4 separate regions of the Homo sapiens genome follow, and regions 1, 2 and 4 are each linked to region 3. Evidence: fine-mapped expression QTL. A gene starts in region 3. Each other region holds a variant in brackets. All regions are shown on one strand. Distances are between the middles of the regions. Region 1 overlaps LINC00921 (long intergenic non-protein coding RNA 921). Region 2 has its middle 15 kb from the start of SLX4. Region 3 holds the start of DNASE1 (deoxyribonuclease 1). Region 4 overlaps NLRC3 (NLR family CARD domain containing 3).

Region 1 (4,161 bases), 390 kb after region 3:
TATTTACCTGAATTTTTTAACTTTTTCAGTTTTTTTATCTTGGTTAGAAAGATCTGTCAGCCCCCGCCCGGCCAGCCGCCCCGTCCGGGAGGGAGGTGGGGGGTCAGCCCCTGCCCGGCCAGCCGCCCCGTCCGGGAGAGAGGTGGGGGGTCAGCCCCTGCCCGGCCAGCCGCCCCGTCCGGGAGGGAGGTGGGGGGTGCCTCCGCCCGCCCAACCGCCCCGTCCGGGTGGTGGGGGGCCGCCTTTGCCCGGCCGCCCCTTCTGGGAAGTGAGGAGCCCCTTTGCCCAGCCACCACCCCGTCTGGGAGGGGTACCCAACAGCTCATTGAGAAGGGGCCATGATGACAATGGCGGTTTTGTGGAATAGAAAAGGGGGAAAGGTGGGGAAAAGATTGAGAAATCAGATGGTTGCTGTGTCTGTGTAGAAAAAAGTAGACATGGGAGACTTTTCATTTTGTTCTGTACTAAGAAAAATTCTTCTGCCTTGGGATACTGTTGATCTGTGACCTTACCCCCAACCCTGTGCTCTCTGAAACATGTGCTGTGTCCACTCAGGGTTAAATGGATTAAGGGCAGTGCAAGATGTGCTTTGTTAAACAGATGCTTGAAGGCAGCATGCTCGTTAAGAGTCATCACCACTCCCTAATCTCAAGTACCCAAGGACACAAACACTGCAGAAGGCCGCAGGGTCCTCTGCCTAGGAAAACCAGAGACCTTTGTTCACTTGTTTGTCTGCTGACCTTCCCTCCACTGTTGTCCTATGGCCCTGCCAAGTCCCCCTCTGCGAGAAACACCCAAGAATGATCAATAAAAAAATAAAAAATAAAAAAAAAGAAAGATCTTCCTCACTGCGAAATTTAAACAAATTTACAGATATTACACTTCGTGTTTCTTTAAATCATCTGGGCCAGGTGCGGTGGCTCATGGTTGTAATCCCAGCATTTTGGGAGGCCGAGGCGGGTGGATCACTCGAGGTCAGGAGTTCGAGACCAGTCTGGGCAACATGGTGAAAACCCATCTCCACTAAAAATACAAAAAATTAGCCGGGTGTGGTGGCACATGCCTGTAATCCCAGCTACTTGGGAGGCTGAGGCAGGAGAATCACTTGAACCTGGGAGGCAGAGGTTGCAATGAGCCCAGATCACACCATTGCACTCCAGCCTGGGAAACAAGAGCGACATTCCGTCTCAAAAAAAAAAAAAAATATATATATATATATATATATATATATATATATATATGGAGTTTATTTTTTATATATGTCAGGCAGAAGTCTATGTTTTCCAGCTCAACTGTCAACAGTCCCAAAACTATTTATAAGTTGGGCCACCTTTTCCCCTTGGGTTTTAAATACCATCTTTTGCATATACACACGTCTTACGGAATCTTGTTTCCATTTACCTTATATCCATTCTTGTAAAAACATATTACTGTTCTAATTTACTGTATTTTCACAGCTTGTTGTTATATCTGTTACAATACATCTCACACCACTGTATTTTTTTCACAATTTTTTTGGCTATGAATTTTAAAAATCAACTTGTCAAAGCCCATTCTTAAACATCTTGCAGCCTGGTGCGGTGGCTGATGCCTGTAATCCCAGCACTTTGGGAGGGTGAGGTGGGCAGAACAGCCTGGCCAACATGGCGAAACCTCATCTCTACTAAAAATACAAAAATTAGCTGGGCATGGTGGGGCGCACCTGTAATCCCAGCTACTCGGGAGGCTGAGGCAGGAGAATCACTTGAACCTGGGAGGCAGAGGTTGCAGTGACCTGAGATCACGCCACTGCACTCCAGCCTGGGCAACAGTGAGACCCAGTCTGAAAAAAAAAAGAAAGTCTTGTTATGGCTGGGCATGGTGGCTCACACTTGTAATGCCAGCATTTTGAGAGGCCAAGGCAGGAAGATCGCATGAGCTTAGAAGTTTGAGACCAGCTCAGGCAACATAGCAAGATCACATTTTTTTAAAAATGTAAAAAAAAAATCTCGTTACAATTTCAATTGGGTTTGCTTATAATTTGTTGATTAATTTAGGAATGCATGATATATTTGTAATATTAACTCTTCCATCCACGACTGTGGTGTATTTCTTCAATGATCTGGGACTTTTAAAATTCTGTAATCCTATATACTTTTCTTCTTATAGGTCTTGCAAATTTCTTATCATGTCTGGTTATGGGTTTTGCTACTATTGTGCATGGGATTCTTTGTTTCAAATTTTGTTTCCTAATTACTCAGATTAATTTTCCAACACCTACCACCAACTCTTTCAAGGCAGCATGTAGGGGTTAGTGGTAGCAACTCTTCT[C/TCTC]TTGGAGCCAGTCTTAGTTGTCTGTATAAAGAAACCATTCCATGTTCCAGGACAGACTTTGCTGCCGTTGGGATGAATGGAGAGCAACATCCCGGTTGTCCGTCATGGGTGACAGCCTTCCTTCAGGTGACTTTGGCCTGTGATTTTCCATCCTGTTTGGGCTTCAAGTTATCCGAAAGGAATCATATTGAAATGGGTGTTTCTGAATTTCCGTGTCCTCATGTTTTTAGTTCTTCACAGCCTGCTTTAAAAATTATTCATTCTTTTTTTTTTCTTTTTGACAGAGTCTCGCTCTGTTGCCCAGGCTGGAGTGCAATGGTGCGATCTCGGCTCACTGCAACCTCCACCTCCCGGCTTCAATCGATCCTCCCGCCTCAGCCTACTTAGTAGCTGGGGTTACAGGCGCACGCTACCATGCCCGGCTAATTTTTGTATTTTTAGTAGAAATGGAGTTTCACCATGTTGGTCAGGCTGGTCTTGAACTCCTGATCTCGTGATCCACCTGCCTCGGCCTCTCAAAGTGCTGGGATTAAAGGCGTGAGCCACCGCGCCCAGCCACATTATTCATTCTTGCTTCTGCCTCTCCCTTTATCTTTCAGATATTAGGTGTAGTCAATAGCACTTAACTTTCTTCCAAATACAGTTAGGTGGACAGAATTCTAGTCCCAGCTCTGCACTGATGTGTAGAACTCAAGTCAGTCAGTTCCCCTGGAAGCCTGTGTCCTCCTCTGTAACATGACGGGGTTGGCTTGATGACTGCTAAGCTACCAGATGCCAAGAGACAGCAAAGCCAAAGGAAAGGCCTTGAGCTCTGCAGACACAGACCTTGAGACTGAATGTTGGCTACCTGACTCTTTGTAGTTGTGTAGCCTTGGGCAAGTCAGTGTGTACAAACTTCCTGTTTTCTGTGTTAAATTGAATATATCAACACCCACCTTGGACAGGCACAGTGGCTCCTGCCTATAATCCCAACACTTTGGGAGGCCAATGAGGGAGGATGGCTTGAACCCAAGTTTGAGATCAGCCTGGGAAACATAGTGAGACCCCGTCTCTACCAAAAATAACTTTTTTTGAATTAGGCGTTTTGTTTCAAAAATTTCAGAGAAAGGGACCTGTATCTAGAGTCTTATTTCAGGGGCAATCTTCCCACCTCAGCTTCCCAAGTAGCTAGGACCACAGGTATACATGATGGTGCATTCCTGTAGTGTCAGCTACTCGGGAGGCTGAAGTGGGACATTACTTGAGCTGGGGAGGTCAAAGCTGTAGGGAGCTGAGGCCAGGCACGGTGGCTCACGCCTGTAATCCCAGCACTTTGGGAGGCCGAGGTGGGCAGATCACAAGGTCAGGAGATCGAGACCATCCTGACTAACACGGTGAAACCCCGCCTCTACTAAAAATACAAAAATATGCTGGGCGTGGTGGCAGGCGCCTGTAGTCCCAGCTACTCAGGAGGCTGAGGCAGGAGAATGGTGTGAATCCGGGAGGCCCAGCTTGCAGTAAGCAGAGATCGTGCCACTGCACTCCAGCCTGGGTGACAGAGTGAGACTCCATCTCAAAAAAATAATAATAATAAATAATTAAATTTAAAAAGCTGTAGGGAGCTAAGCCATGATTGCAACACTGCACTCCAGTCTGGGTGATAGAGCGAGACCCTGTCCCCAAATAAATAAATAAACATACCCACCTCACATGAGGATAGTGAAGTCTAGGAAGAAACACCTATTACCTTGTATCCAGCATTGTTCTTGGTGCTTTGTGTGTATTAGCTCATTTAATCTTCACAACAACTCTAGAACCCCCATTTTACAGTTGATAGAAACAGGGACAAAGAGGGTAGGTATATCACTTGGC
Region 2 (4,161 bases), 28 kb after region 3:
TCCAGCCTGGGCGACACAGCGAGATTCCATCTCAAAAAAAAAAGAAAGAAAAAAACAGAAATGCACATTGAATGAACATCATACTCAATAGTGAATGACTAAAAAATTTTCTTCTAAGATGAGAACATTCACCTTTACCACTACTATTTAACCTAGTACTGGAAGTTCTAGCCATAGCAATTAAGAAAAAAATATATATCCAAATTGGAAAGAAAAAAGTAAAATTAATTCACAGATTTAATATGATATGTAAAAAACTAGGCCTAAACATTACACACAAAAAATAATTACAATAACAGAATCAGCAAAGCAGCAGGATACAAAGTCAGCACACAAAAATCATTTGCATTTCTATATACTAACACTGAACAATTTGAAAAGGAAATTATAAAAACAATTCCACTTACAATAGCATTAAAAAGAATAAAATACCTAGGACTTTTAACCAAGGAGGTAAAAGATTCATACAATGAAAACTACAAAACATCGCTGAAAGAAATTAATGAAGATATAAGTAAGGAAAAACATCACACTTTCATGGGTTGGACGATATTGTTAAGACAAGATATCTTAATATTGTTAAGATGTCAATACTCCCAAAAGTGAGCTACTGATTCATATGTAAACTGAAGCAAAATCCCAATGACTTTTTTTTTTTTTTTTTTTTTTTTGCAGAAATAGAAAATACATGCTGAAATTCATATGGAATCTCCACGGACCCCAGATAGCCAACACCATGTTGAAAAAGAAAAACAGATTCAGGATTCACACTTCCTGATTTCAAAACTTACTAACAAACTGCAGTAATCACAACAATGTGGTACTGGCAGGAAGACAGACATACAGACTATTGGAATAGAGTTGACAGCCCAGAAATAAATCCTGGCATATATGGTCAAATGATTTTGACAAGGATGCCAAGACCATTCAACGGGGAAAAGATAGTCTTTTTAATAAATGTTGCTGAGAAAACTGGATATCCACATGCAAAAGAACATGGATATCATATCAAAGTCATAGGAAACAAAAGAAAACACAGACAAGCCAGGTGCACTGGCTCATGTAACACTTTGGGAGACTGAGGTGGAAGGATCACTTGAGCCCAGGAGTTCCAGACGGGCCTGAGCAACATAGTGAGGCCTTGTCTCTATAAAAAAATAAAAAATAAAATTACCCAGCCATGGTGGCACACACCCATAGTCCCATACTCGGGAGGCTTAGGTGGGAGGATGGCTTGAGCTAGAGTTCAATGCTGCAGTGAGCCGTGATCATGCCACTGCACTCCAGCCAGGGTGACAGAGCAAGACCACCCTGTCTAAAAAAAAAAAAAAAAGGATATGTCATGCAAACACTAATCAAAAGACAGCTGGACTGGCTATATTAATGTCAAACAAGCAAAGTAGACTTCATAGCAAAGAAAATTACCAGTGATAAAGAGGGCTGGGTGCAGTGGCTCACGCCTGTAGTCTCAGCACTTGGCCAACATGGGAGGATCACTTGAGGCTAGGAGTTTCAGACCAGCATGGGCAACATAGGGAGACCCTGTCTCTACCAAAAAAAAAAAAAAAATTTAAATAAGCATGGTGGCATGTGCCTGTGGTCCCAGCTCCTCAGAAGACGGAGGCAGGAGAATCACTGGAGCTCAGGAGTTCAAAGCTGCAGTGAGTTTTGATCACATCACCGTGCTCCAGCCTGGGTGACATAGCAAGACCCTGTCTCTAAAAAACATAAAATAAAATAAATAAAAGAGGGCTATTACATAATGATAAAAAAGGTCAATTCATCAAGACAGCATAATCCTAAGTGCATACGCATCTAACAAAAGAGATTCAAAATAAATGAAACAAAAACTGACAAATGAAGAACAGACAAATCCACTATCAGAGCTGGAGACTTCAACACTTCTCAATACATAGAACCAGTAGACAGAAAATCAGCAACCTGAACACCATCATCAACCAACTGGATCTAACTGACATCTAGAGGACACTCCACCTAACAACAGAGAAATATATAGTGTTTTCAAGTGTTCAAGCTTGGAGCACTCAAGATGGACTATATTCTAAGCCATAAAAGTCACAAAACAAATTTTTAAAAATTGAAATCATATAAAGTATGATCTCTGACCATAATGGAATTAAACTAGAAACCAGTAACAGAAAAATGAGGGAACTCTCCAAACACTTGATATTAAGCAACATACTTCTAAATAACCATGGCTCAAACAGGAAGTCCTTACCACACTAGCTATTGTCTAGCAGTTATCTTCATTTTGTTCATGCTGCTGAGTTTAGTGATC[A/G]CTCACTGTGGTTTAATTTGCATTTTCTTTGACTAAATAAGTTGAACACTTCTTCATATACCTGTTGGCCACTCAAGTCTCTTGCCTGTTTTTCTATTTTTTTTTTTTTAGGATTTCTTTAGATATTAATCCTTTGTCATTGTGCATATGATACTAGTCCCGTGCACATCACACACATCTTCTAGTCTGTGGTATCTTTACACCCTTTTTGAGATAGAGTCTTGCTCTGCTGCCCAGGCTGGAGTACAGTGGCAGAATCACGGCTCACTATAGCCTTGGCTTCTCAGGCTCAAGTGATCTTCCCACCTCAGCTTCCAGAGTAGCTGGGACTACAGGCGCATGCCCTGACACCCGGCTAATTTTTAAATTGTTTGTTCAGACAGGGTCCCACTATTTTGCTCAGTCTGATCTCAAACTCCTGGGCTAAAGCGATCCTTCTGCCTCGGCCTCCTGAAGTGTTGGGATTACAGGCATGAGCCACCATGCACAGCCCTTTACACCCTCTTAATGGTGCCTTATAAAGGTTCTTAATTTTAATGTCACATAATTTGTCACTTCTTTATGGTTAGTGGTTTGTGTCCCTGTTTAAGAATTTTTTGCCTACCCCAAAGTCATGAAGATTCCCTCCTATGCCTTTTTTAGCACCTTTATTCTATATTGGCCGTTTCATTTATTTATTTATTTTTTGACACAGGGTCTTGCTCTGTTGCCCAGGCTGGAGTGCAGAAAGGCGATTATGATTCACTGCAGCCTCGACCTCCTGGGCTCAAGCGATCCCATTTCAGCCTACTGAATAGCTGGGAGTAGAGGCATGTGCTACCATGCTGGCTAATTTTATTTAAACAATTTTTTTTTTGCAGCGATGGGTCTCACTACACAGCCCAGGCTGGCCTTGAACCATGGGCTCAGGCAATTCTCCCTTCTCAGTCTCCCAAGTTTCAGAGACTACAAGAATATAACATCATGCCTAGCCCCATTAGTTTGTTTTATTGTTTTTTGTTTTGGAGACAGAGTCTCACTCTGTTGCCCAGGCTGGAATGCAGTGGTACGATCTCGGCTCACTGTAACCCCTGCCTCCAGGGCTCAAGCAATTCTCCTGCCTCAGCCTCCCAAGTAGCTGGGATTACAGGCATGCACCACCACACCTGGCTAACTTTTGTATTTTAGTAGAGACGGGGTTTCACCATGTTGGCCAGGCTGGTCTTGAACTCCCAACCTCAGGTGATCCGCCCGCCTAGGCCTCCCAAAGTGCTGGGATTACAGGAGTGAGCCACTGCCCCCGGCCCCCATTAAGTTTTAATAAGAAAAACTGCAGGCTGGGCATGATGGCTCACACCTGTAATCTCAGACTGTGAGAGGCTGGGGCAAGCAAATCACTTGAGCCCAGTTCGAGACGAGCCTGGGCAACATGGCAAAACCCTATCTCTACTAAAAATAAAAAATAAAATAAAAAATTAGCCAGGTGTGCTGGAAGAAACCTATATTCTCAGCTACAGAAATAGAATACAGGCTGAGGTGGGAGGACTGTTTGAGCCTGGGAGGCAGAGGATGCAGTGACCCAAGTTCCCACTACTGCACTCCAGCCTGGGTGACGACAAAGTAAGACTCCATCTCAAAAAACAAGAAAAGAAAAATTGATTGCAAAAAAATTGTTACACAATGTTTGCTGGTTTGGGCCACCACTGGGAATGGCTTTGCCTGTCTAGATGTTCGGATGCTGAGCACAGTCCACCCAGTTGGACTGCTCCAGGTATAGTACACAGTGGCTGCTAGATTCAGGGTCTTATGGGAACAGCTTCAGCCACTGTGAACTCAGCCAGGGGCGGCAAGGGCATTCTGAAGGTTTAGAGCTCGGCATAAGG
Region 3 (4,161 bases):
GAGACAGCCACGTCGTGTGAGGCACACTCCCTGGGGGCAGGTTCAGTCACCATGTCAGCTGGAACTATGTATCATGACAGTCCCCCCGGGGGGTGGATATTTTCCAAATGACTTGAATGGAAAACCCAAGCCCCAGGGACTGGGAGGGCAGTGTGTGACACAGGCATTCCAGGTTCCCTAGGAGGGGGTGGAGGCCATAAGCGCCAAGCCGAGCCCCACCCTGGCCCAGGCAGCACCCACCTGTGAACCGGGAGAAGAACCTGACAATGGCTGGCTCTCGGTTGAAGGTGTCGTTCCCGCAGGGCTCGCAGCCATCATCGTAGTAGTAGCTGTCCACCGCAGACACCTGGTCAGGCCTGCGGGAAGGCCGGGCAGGAGGAGGTGACCCCAGGCTGGAAGCTGCCCCACTCCTGCTTCCCAGGAGGCAGGCGTCGCGTCCCAGGCGACAGGAGGGCGGGGGAGCCAGGCACCTGCTCAACCCATTGGTCCGGGACCCAGGCGACAGGAGGGCGGGGGAGCCAGGCACCTGCTCAACCCATTGGTCCGGGACCCAGGCGACAGGAGGGCGGGGGAGCCAGGCACCTGCTCAACCCATTGGTCCGGGACCCAGGCGACAGGAGGGCGGGGGAGCCAGGCACCTGCTCAACCCATTGGTCCGGGACCTTGGGGTGTTTTCACTCCACCCTGGACCCTGCTCTGAAGCCTCAGGTTCTTGCCATAGGACAAACTAATAGGACAAACTACTTCCCTGCTCTGTTGGGGCCCTCCCAGGTGAGGGAGGGGCTTCCTGGCTTTCTAGACCACCCACCTGTACACGAACAGGTAGCGCTCCTTATAGCTGTTCCGTCCCAGTGGCTCACTGACCACGTAGTGATAGGTGTCTGGTGCATCCCTGGATTGAAGAAACAAAAGGTCCCAGTGGCGGGGGCCATAGGGGACCCCTCTGGCTGCCGATAGCGAGGCTGTGCCCAGGTCCCCACCCTTGGGGCCCAAGTGAAGTGAGGCTGTGCCGTGGACGAGATGTCACCTTCCTATGACCCTGCCACTGTCACCCACTGATTGAGGTTGTCCAGCAGCTTCCCCACGGCAGTCAGGTGGCTGTCTCTGACCTCCTGGACCAGGGCGATGTCATAGCGGCTCAGGATCTGGGGGCAGGGCCACAGTGGTGCTGAGCAGGGCTGGTGCCACCCAGGGACCCTACAGCGCCACAAAGGGAGCCACAGCTGATGCTCGTGGCATTGCTCGGTTTAACCGCAGCCTCATGTTTCTGCCTGGGCTCCTGCTGCCAGCCAGGGACAGCACAGCAGGGATGAGGACCTTGGTCCACAGCCAAGAGCCTGTTCCACCGTGCTGGGAGCAGTGGTGCTCAGTACCCCACACCCGACACCCTGTGGCTCCATAGGGCTGGCCCTGCCCACCAGCCCTAGACTCCAGAGCTCCTCTGCTTTTGGGGGGAGGCTGCCCTGGCCTCACCTGCACAATGTAGCTGACGAGGGTGGCATTGGACATCTTGGTCTCCCCAAATGTCTGGATGTTGAAGGCTGCGATCTTCAGGGACACGGCCCCCTGCAGTAGGGCCGCCAGTGCCAGCAGCGCCCCCAGCAGCTTCATGCCCCTCATCCTGGGAGAGCACAGGGCACAGAGACATAACAGAAGTGAGACGTCATCCCTGCCACAGCACTCCAGCCTTCTGGAGCCCAGCTGGCAGGGGCTGGTGGAGCTCAAGGTCAGGGGGACGCAGGCGGGGGAAACCCTTTCCTACAACGTCCAGAAAGCCAAACAGCTGGCACCACGTAGAGGACCCCGAGTCACTCCTCCATCCACCAGAAAACCCGCCCGGGAGGGACGCTGGAGCCTCCGCCTCACTCGCTGCTGGAGGATGAGACTCTAAGCCTCCCTCCCTGCTCCAAACCGGCCAGTCACCCAGAGGCACTCCACCTGGTGCTCACCTGAGATGATGGTGATGTCCTCAGAGATGACGAGAATGCTGTCAAGAATCTGGAATATCCTTTGATGACAATTTTCTCCTTTTGCTGCTTAAAGAAAAAAAAGTAGTCTATGAAGAAAGGTCTCTGAAGAAGCACTTCAAGGCCCTGGCAGTGCTGCTGGGCTCCGGATCCTGCACAGGCAGTGCGTGTCTGGGAGTTTTAAAAGTTCAGGCAGCTGTGACCTTCCCTGGGGCAAATGTGAGCCGTCACCTGAGAGTGCAGAAAACAATGGCTCTGTGTGGCTTTCCGCATAGGTGGGTTGCTAGCACGTGTTTCTTTCTGTAAGCACAGGTTTCTTGCTGCTGTAAAAACTGCACCTGATAATCACGTTTGCACTTAGTTTTAAAATGTCTGATAACAAGGCCAAAGGTTCCTATCCCGTGTCCCTTGCACGTGTGGTGGCCCCCATCTTCCAGGATAGGGCAGGGATGGGCCAGGTATGTGCGGGAGGGTGGGGCTGGGCTCCAGTCTCCCTGTCTCTTGTCTGGGGGCCCCAAGGTCACTTTGGACAAAGAGGCCAAAGCCACATCCAAAGTTGCAAATGGAGCCCCCTGGTGGCTGACAGCCATGACTGCTCTGTGGCCCAGGACACGCCTGCCTTCCTGATTCATCGCCATCAGGTGCAGGCAACTCTGCAGGAGGCTGGGGAGCTCGGAACAAGCAGTGGTGGGGGCCTGCAGCACCAGCGCCGTGGGGCCAGGACAGGTGGGGCCTGCAAAGCCCACCCCAATTGCCAGCCAAGCAGTGGGGAGCCTTCTTGAGGTAGACAATAGGCTGTGTGTTTAGGCCCAGGGGATCCCGAGTGACCAGGTCACAAGGGCAGGGCAGCAGCTAAAGGCCAGGCCTCAGGTCCAGTAATTTCTTGGTTCTTTTGTTTTGGGTTTTTATTGTTTTTGAGACAGGGTCTCACACTGTGTTGCCAAGGCTGGAGTGCAGTGGCACAATCATGGCTCATTATAGCCTCAACCGCCAGGGCTCAGATAATCCTCCCTCCTCAGCCTCCTGAGTAGCTAAGACTATGGGTACGGCACCATGCCTGGCTAATTTTTAAATTTTTTTGGTAGAGATGGGGTCTTGCTCTTTTGTCCAGACTGGTCTTGAACTCCTGGCTTCAGGCAATCCTCCGGCGTAGCCAGGACCACAGGTGCATGCTACCATGCTCAGTTTTTTTTTTTTTTTTTTTTTTTTTTTTTTTTTTTGAGGCGGAATCTTGCTCTGCTGCCCAGCCTGGAGTGCAGTAATACTATCTCGGCTCACTGCAACCTCTGCTTCCTGGGTTCAAGCAATTCTTCTGCCTCAGCCTCCCGAGTAGCTGGGATTACAGGCACGCACCACCACACCCGGCTAATTTTTGTATTTTTAGTAGAGACAGGGTTTCACCATGTTGGTCACACTGGTCTCAAACTCGTGACCTTGTGATCCGCCTGCCTCGGCCTCCCAAAGTGCTGGGATTACAGGCGTGAGCCATCGCACCCAGCCTATTTTTTAAGTTTCTCACAGACACAAGGTCTCCAAGTCCTGAGCCCAAGCAATCTTCCCGCAAATGCTGGGATTACAAGTGTGAGCCACCGCACCCCGCCACTCATTTCTTGGAATCTTTGACTTTCCATTCGTATTCATTTCCTGAGACTGGTGAAACTACCACAAGTTTGGTTGCTTAAAATAACAGAAATGGATCCTCTCAAAATTCCGGAGACTGGACGTCTGAAGTCAGGGAGTCAGTAGGACCTTGCGCCTCCTGGAGGCTCCGGGCGGTTGGGGGATGCTCCTTGCCCTCCAGTTTCTGCAGGCTGCCAGCAATCCTTGGCTTTCCTTAGTTGTGGCTGCATCACCCCAGTCTCTGCCTCTTCTTCTTAAGATCTGTGCACCTGCATTTGGGGTCCTCCCAGAGAGCAGGGAGGATGTCCTTATCTCAACAGCCTTTACTCACATCTGCAAGTCCTTTTTTGCTACAAAAATCAACATTCAGAGGTTCCAGGGCTAGGGCACAGCTATCTTTTGAGCCACCCCTGGGTCTTGCCCACTTGGAAGGGGCTGTGCTGGCCCTCCAAGGACAGCCCTGCACGTAGCATCTGTGGTCCCCCTGGGGGAGGAGGGCCTGGAAGGCTTGGCAGAAGTCCAGGCGGGATTCAGGTATGAGAACTGCAGGAAATGAATACAAATGGGGTCTGCA
Region 4 (4,161 bases), 94 kb after region 3:
GAGGCTGGACGTGTTCCTGCGCTTCCTCTCCGGCCTCTTGTCTCCGAGGGTCAATGCCCTCCTGGCCGGCTCCCTGCTGGCCCAAGGCGAGCACCAGGCCTACCGGACCCAGGTGGCTGAGCTCCTGCAGGGCTGCCTGCGCCCCGATGCCGCAGTCTGTGCACGGGCCATCAACGTGTTGCACTGCCTGCATGAGCTGCAGCACACCGAGCTGGCCCGCAGCGTGGAGGAGGCCATGGAGAGCGGGGCCCTGGCCAGGCTGACTGGTCCCGCGCACCGCGCTGCCCTGGCCTACCTCCTGCAGGTGTCCGACGCCTGTGCCCAGGAGGCCAACCTGTCCCTGAGCCTCAGCCAGGGCGTCCTTCAGAGCCTGCTGCCCCAGCTGCTCTACTGCCGGAAGCTCAGGTGGATACCAGGGCAGGGGGCAGGGGCTGGGGAAGGGGCAGAGGAGAGAGCAGAAGCCGTCCCCTCCCCACCACCAAGCTTCTCTGTCAGTCTCCTAGGGCTGCCGTAACAGAGGACCATGAACTTGGTGGCTTAAAACAACTAAAGTGTGTTTTCTCGCAGTTCTGGAGGCCAGAAGTCTCAAATCAAGGTGCCAGGAGGGCCATGCGCTCTCTGAAACATATAGGAGAGGTTCTTTCCTTCCTCTCTAGCTTCCAGTGTTTGATGGGAACCCTTGGCTTAAGGCTGCGTTACTTCAGTCTCTCCCGTCGCCTGGTCATCTTCTCCCTGTGTCTGTCTCCACATGGTGCTGTCCTCTCTTTTTTTTTGAGATGGAGTCTTGCTCTGTCGCCCAGGCTGGAATACAGTGGCGCGATCTCAGCTCACTGCAAACGCTGCCTCCTGGGTTCAAGCGATTCTCCTGCCTCAGCCTCCCTAGTAGCTGGGATTACAGGTGCCCGCCATCATGCCTGGCTAATTTTTGTGTTTTTAGTAGAGACGGGGTTTCACCATGTTGGCCAGGCTGCTCTCAAACTCCTGACCTCAGGTGACCCGCCCACCCCAGCCTCCCAAATTGCTGGGATTACAGGCCTGAGCCACTGCACCTGGCCAGTGCTTTCTTGTCTTAAAAAGACACTGTCACACTGGATTACAGGCTCACCCCACTTCAGCATGGCCCCACCTTAACAAAGTACATCCACAGTGACCCCATTTCTCAATAAAGCCACATACTTGGGGCACAGGGGGTTAGGACTTCATATCTTTTGTGGGGACACAATTCAATTCATAACCCCCTCAGAACCATCCAGTCTGATAGAAGCTGCACACCCGCTGAATGCTTTCAGCCTGTCCCCTGCCCGCCACTCTGGACCTTAGTGAGTAGGGAGGAAAGGACACAGGCTGAGGGTCATCCAGGTGTCCCGCAGAGGCAGGCGGTATGTGGGGTGGTGAGGACGACAGCCCGTGGAAGATGCCGTTCTGCACAGGAACCGCAGGTCTCGTGGGCACCCAGCCTCCTGTTCACTCTCACGGGAAAGGTCTGAGCACTGGGGCTGAGCGCAGATCTCAGAGCTGCGGTGATAGCGCTGCATGGGATGGAGAGAGGCAGAGGCCCCGGGCCAGGGCCCCCACCCTGCCCGTGGGCGGGTGGGACACTCACTGTCACTGCTCCCCTTGGCCAGGCTGGACACCAACCAGTTCCAGGACCCCGTGATGGAGCTGCTGGGCAGCGTGCTGAGTGGGAAGGACTGTCGCATTCAGAAGATCAGGTAACACAGACCCAGGGGACCTCCAGGGTGCCTATGGTCTTGTGGGGTATGGAACCCTCTTCCCATCATCCTCTGCTCAGCTGGCCAGCGGC[G/A]CTGCCACGGAGAAGTGTCTTTGGAGCATGTGGCTCCAGATGCAGCCTGCTTGTTTCTGCCCAATTCCAGAAAGTGCTAGAGGCTCAGGTGCCTCATCAGTAGGAAGAGGGAGGTGACCTGGCGGGACTAGACACCGCTGTGCACAGGCAGGTGTTTCCACAGCACTACGTGTGCTGACATAATGCCAGGCACAATGTTCTCTAAGCACCTCTCCAAGTTTGCTGTCCAACAGCATTCTAGGCACAGGATTATAATTATCCCCCCCAGACAGTCTTGCTTTGTCACCCCAGCTGGAGTGTAGTGGCATGATCTCGGCTCATTGTAATCTCTGCCTCCCAGGCTCAAGCAGTTCTCTAACCCCAGCCTCCTGAGTAGCTGGGATTAGAGGGGCCCACCACACCTGGCTAATTTTTGTATTTTTAGTAGAGACAGGGTTTCACCATGTTAACCAGGCTGGCCTCGAACTCCTGACCTTGTGATCCGCCAGCCTTGGCCTCCCAAAGTGCTGGGATTACTGGCGTGAGCTACTGCACCCAGCCAATTGCATTTTTAATTAAAATTTTAAATTTCAAATTTAATTTAATTAAAATTTAATTTCAAATTTAATTTTAAATCAATTTAAACAATTTTTAATTAAAATTGCATCTTGTGGCCGGGTGTGGTGGCTCACCCCTGTAATCCCAGCACTTTGGGAGGCCGAAGCAGGTGGATCACGAGGTCAGGAAATCGAGACCATCCTGACTAACACGGTGAAACCCTGTCTCTACTAAAAATACAAAAAATTAGCCGGGCGTGGTGGTGGGCGCCTGTAGTCCCAGCTACTCAGGAGGCTGAGGCAGGAGAATGGCGTGAACCCAGGAGGCAGAGGTTGCAGTGAGCCGAGATCGCACCACTGCACTCCAGCGCCACTGCACTCCAGTCTGGGTGACAGAGTGAGACTCCGTCTCAAAAAAGAACAAAACAAACAAAAAAACCTTCATCTTGTAATTAGACAAAAGTTCACATGGTGAATGTGTGCTTATGAAACGTCTCCTGGAATAACATTCCTGGATCTGAGAAACTACACACACTCGGGGTTTGTGGTTGAATCGATGTGACTGATCCTCTGAGGGTGGCTGTTGCAGACCTAGGGAGGTGAGTTTGGAGAAGAGAACCCAAGGGCTAATTTTGTTTTTTTTTTTGTTTTGAGACGGAGTCTCCCTGTGTTGGGCAGGCTGGAGTGCAGTGGCACGATCTTGGCTCACTGCAGACTCCGCCTCCCGGGTTCAAGCAATTCTCCTGCCTCAGCCTCCTGAGTAGCTGGGACTACAGGCGCATGCCACCACACCCAGCTAATTTTTGTATTTTTAGTCGATACAGGGTTTCACTATATTACTTTATTGGCCAGGCTGGTCTCAAACTCCTGACCTCAGGTGATCCATCCGCCTCAGCCTCCCAAAGTGCTGGGATTACAGGTGTGAGCCACTGTGGCCAGGGGTAATTCTTCATTCTCATACAAGCCTCTGGGTTCTGAAGTAATCTTTATCTGAGTTAATGGCAATTTACACTAATTCAGTAACAAAAATAAGGCACTGGGGAGTATGTTTAGAGGTGTAGGCTCTGTGTGAGTTTGAAGAAGTCATTTCTGTGCCTTAAGAGGGTAAAAATGGGCTTAAAAGGATATCTAGGCCAGGGGCGGTGGCTCATGCCTTTAATCCCAGCACTTTGGGAGACTGAGGCCCGTGAATCACTTGAGGTCAGGAGTTCGAGACCAGCCTGGTCAAACTGGCAAAACCCTGTCTCTACTAAAAAATACAAAAATTAGCCAGTCGTGGTGGTGGTGGGTGTGTGTAATCCCTGCTACTCAGGAGGCTGAAGCAGGAGAACTGCTTGAGTCTGGGAGGCAGAAGTTGCAGTGAGCCAAGATTGCGCCACTGCACTCCAGCCGAGGTGACAGAGCAAGACCCCGTCTCAAAAAAAAAAAAAGAAAAAAAAAAAGAAAAGTAAAAGAATGACAATTCTCATTATTAATATTTTTTCCTCTGTGAGCGCCTCCTGCATTTTTAGCACATGACAAAATAGCCAACTTTTAGTTTTGCTTAAAGCAGACTAGGTAGTGCTCAGAAATTATTCGGGGGCCAGGCACAGTGGCTCCTTCCTATAATCCTAGCAATCTGGAAGGTGGGGAGATTCTTTAAGGCCAGGAGTTCAAGACCAACCTGGCAAACATATGGCAAGATGCCATCTTTACTAAAAATAAAAATAAAAGTAAATTATTCTGAATGAAGCCAAAAATCTCTTCTCTGGCCACATGCTCTTCTTTACCTCTCTCTGTAGTTGATCCTCAGTGCCACATCCCTATTTCACCTAGAAGTTA

Evidence for each region. PIP is the estimated chance that this variant, and not a neighbour inherited with it, causes the effect.
Region 1: its variant is the best candidate, but not a certain one, in a credible set for the expression of DNASE1 in T cells (TOPMed, PIP 0.81).
Region 2: its variant is the best candidate, but not a certain one, in a credible set for the expression of DNASE1 in memory regulatory T cells (Schmiedel 2018, PIP 0.89).
Region 4: its variant is the best candidate, but not a certain one, in a credible set for the expression of DNASE1 in whole blood (TOPMed, PIP 0.56).

The regions. Positions count from the first base shown.
Region 1 is chr16:3,267,469-3,271,629 of GRCh38, reverse strand. LINC00921 (long intergenic non-protein coding RNA 921) reads right to left here. Exons shown (of 2, transcript NR_033904.1): 2 at 4,063-4,161. Among named protein-coding and RNA genes, the nearest start is that of LINC00921, 5.8 kb to the right of the region's middle. The variant C/TCTC (reference allele first, on the strand shown) is at 2,311.
Region 2 is chr16:3,624,448-3,628,608 of GRCh38, reverse strand. It overlaps a transcript of DNASE1 not described here. Among named protein-coding and RNA genes, the nearest start is that of SLX4, 15 kb to the right of the region's middle. RefSeq lists an enhancer at 2,516-2,615. The variant A/G (reference allele first, on the strand shown) is at 2,300.
Region 3 is chr16:3,652,833-3,656,993 of GRCh38, reverse strand. It overlaps DNASE1 (deoxyribonuclease 1), which reads right to left and starts at 2,303. Exons shown (of 9, transcript NM_005223.4): 1 at 1,950-2,303; 2 at 1,474-1,621; 3 at 1,057-1,145; 4 at 809-892; 5 at 241-356. The coding sequence starts at 1,620. LOC124903631 (a long non-coding RNA gene) reads left to right here. Exons shown (of 2, transcript XR_007064954.1): 2 at 1-4,161. RefSeq lists enhancers at 1,071-1,598, 1,599-2,126.
Region 4 is chr16:3,559,253-3,563,413 of GRCh38, reverse strand. It overlaps NLRC3 (NLR family CARD domain containing 3), which reads left to right. Exons shown (of 20, transcript NM_178844.4): 5 at 1-405; 6 at 1,626-1,712. LOC101929732 (a long non-coding RNA gene) reads right to left here. Exons shown (of 4, transcript XR_007064953.1): 4 at 3,825-4,161. Among named protein-coding and RNA genes, the nearest start is that of NLRC3, 16 kb to the left of the region's middle. RefSeq lists an enhancer at 1,052-1,552. The variant G/A (reference allele first, on the strand shown) is at 1,805.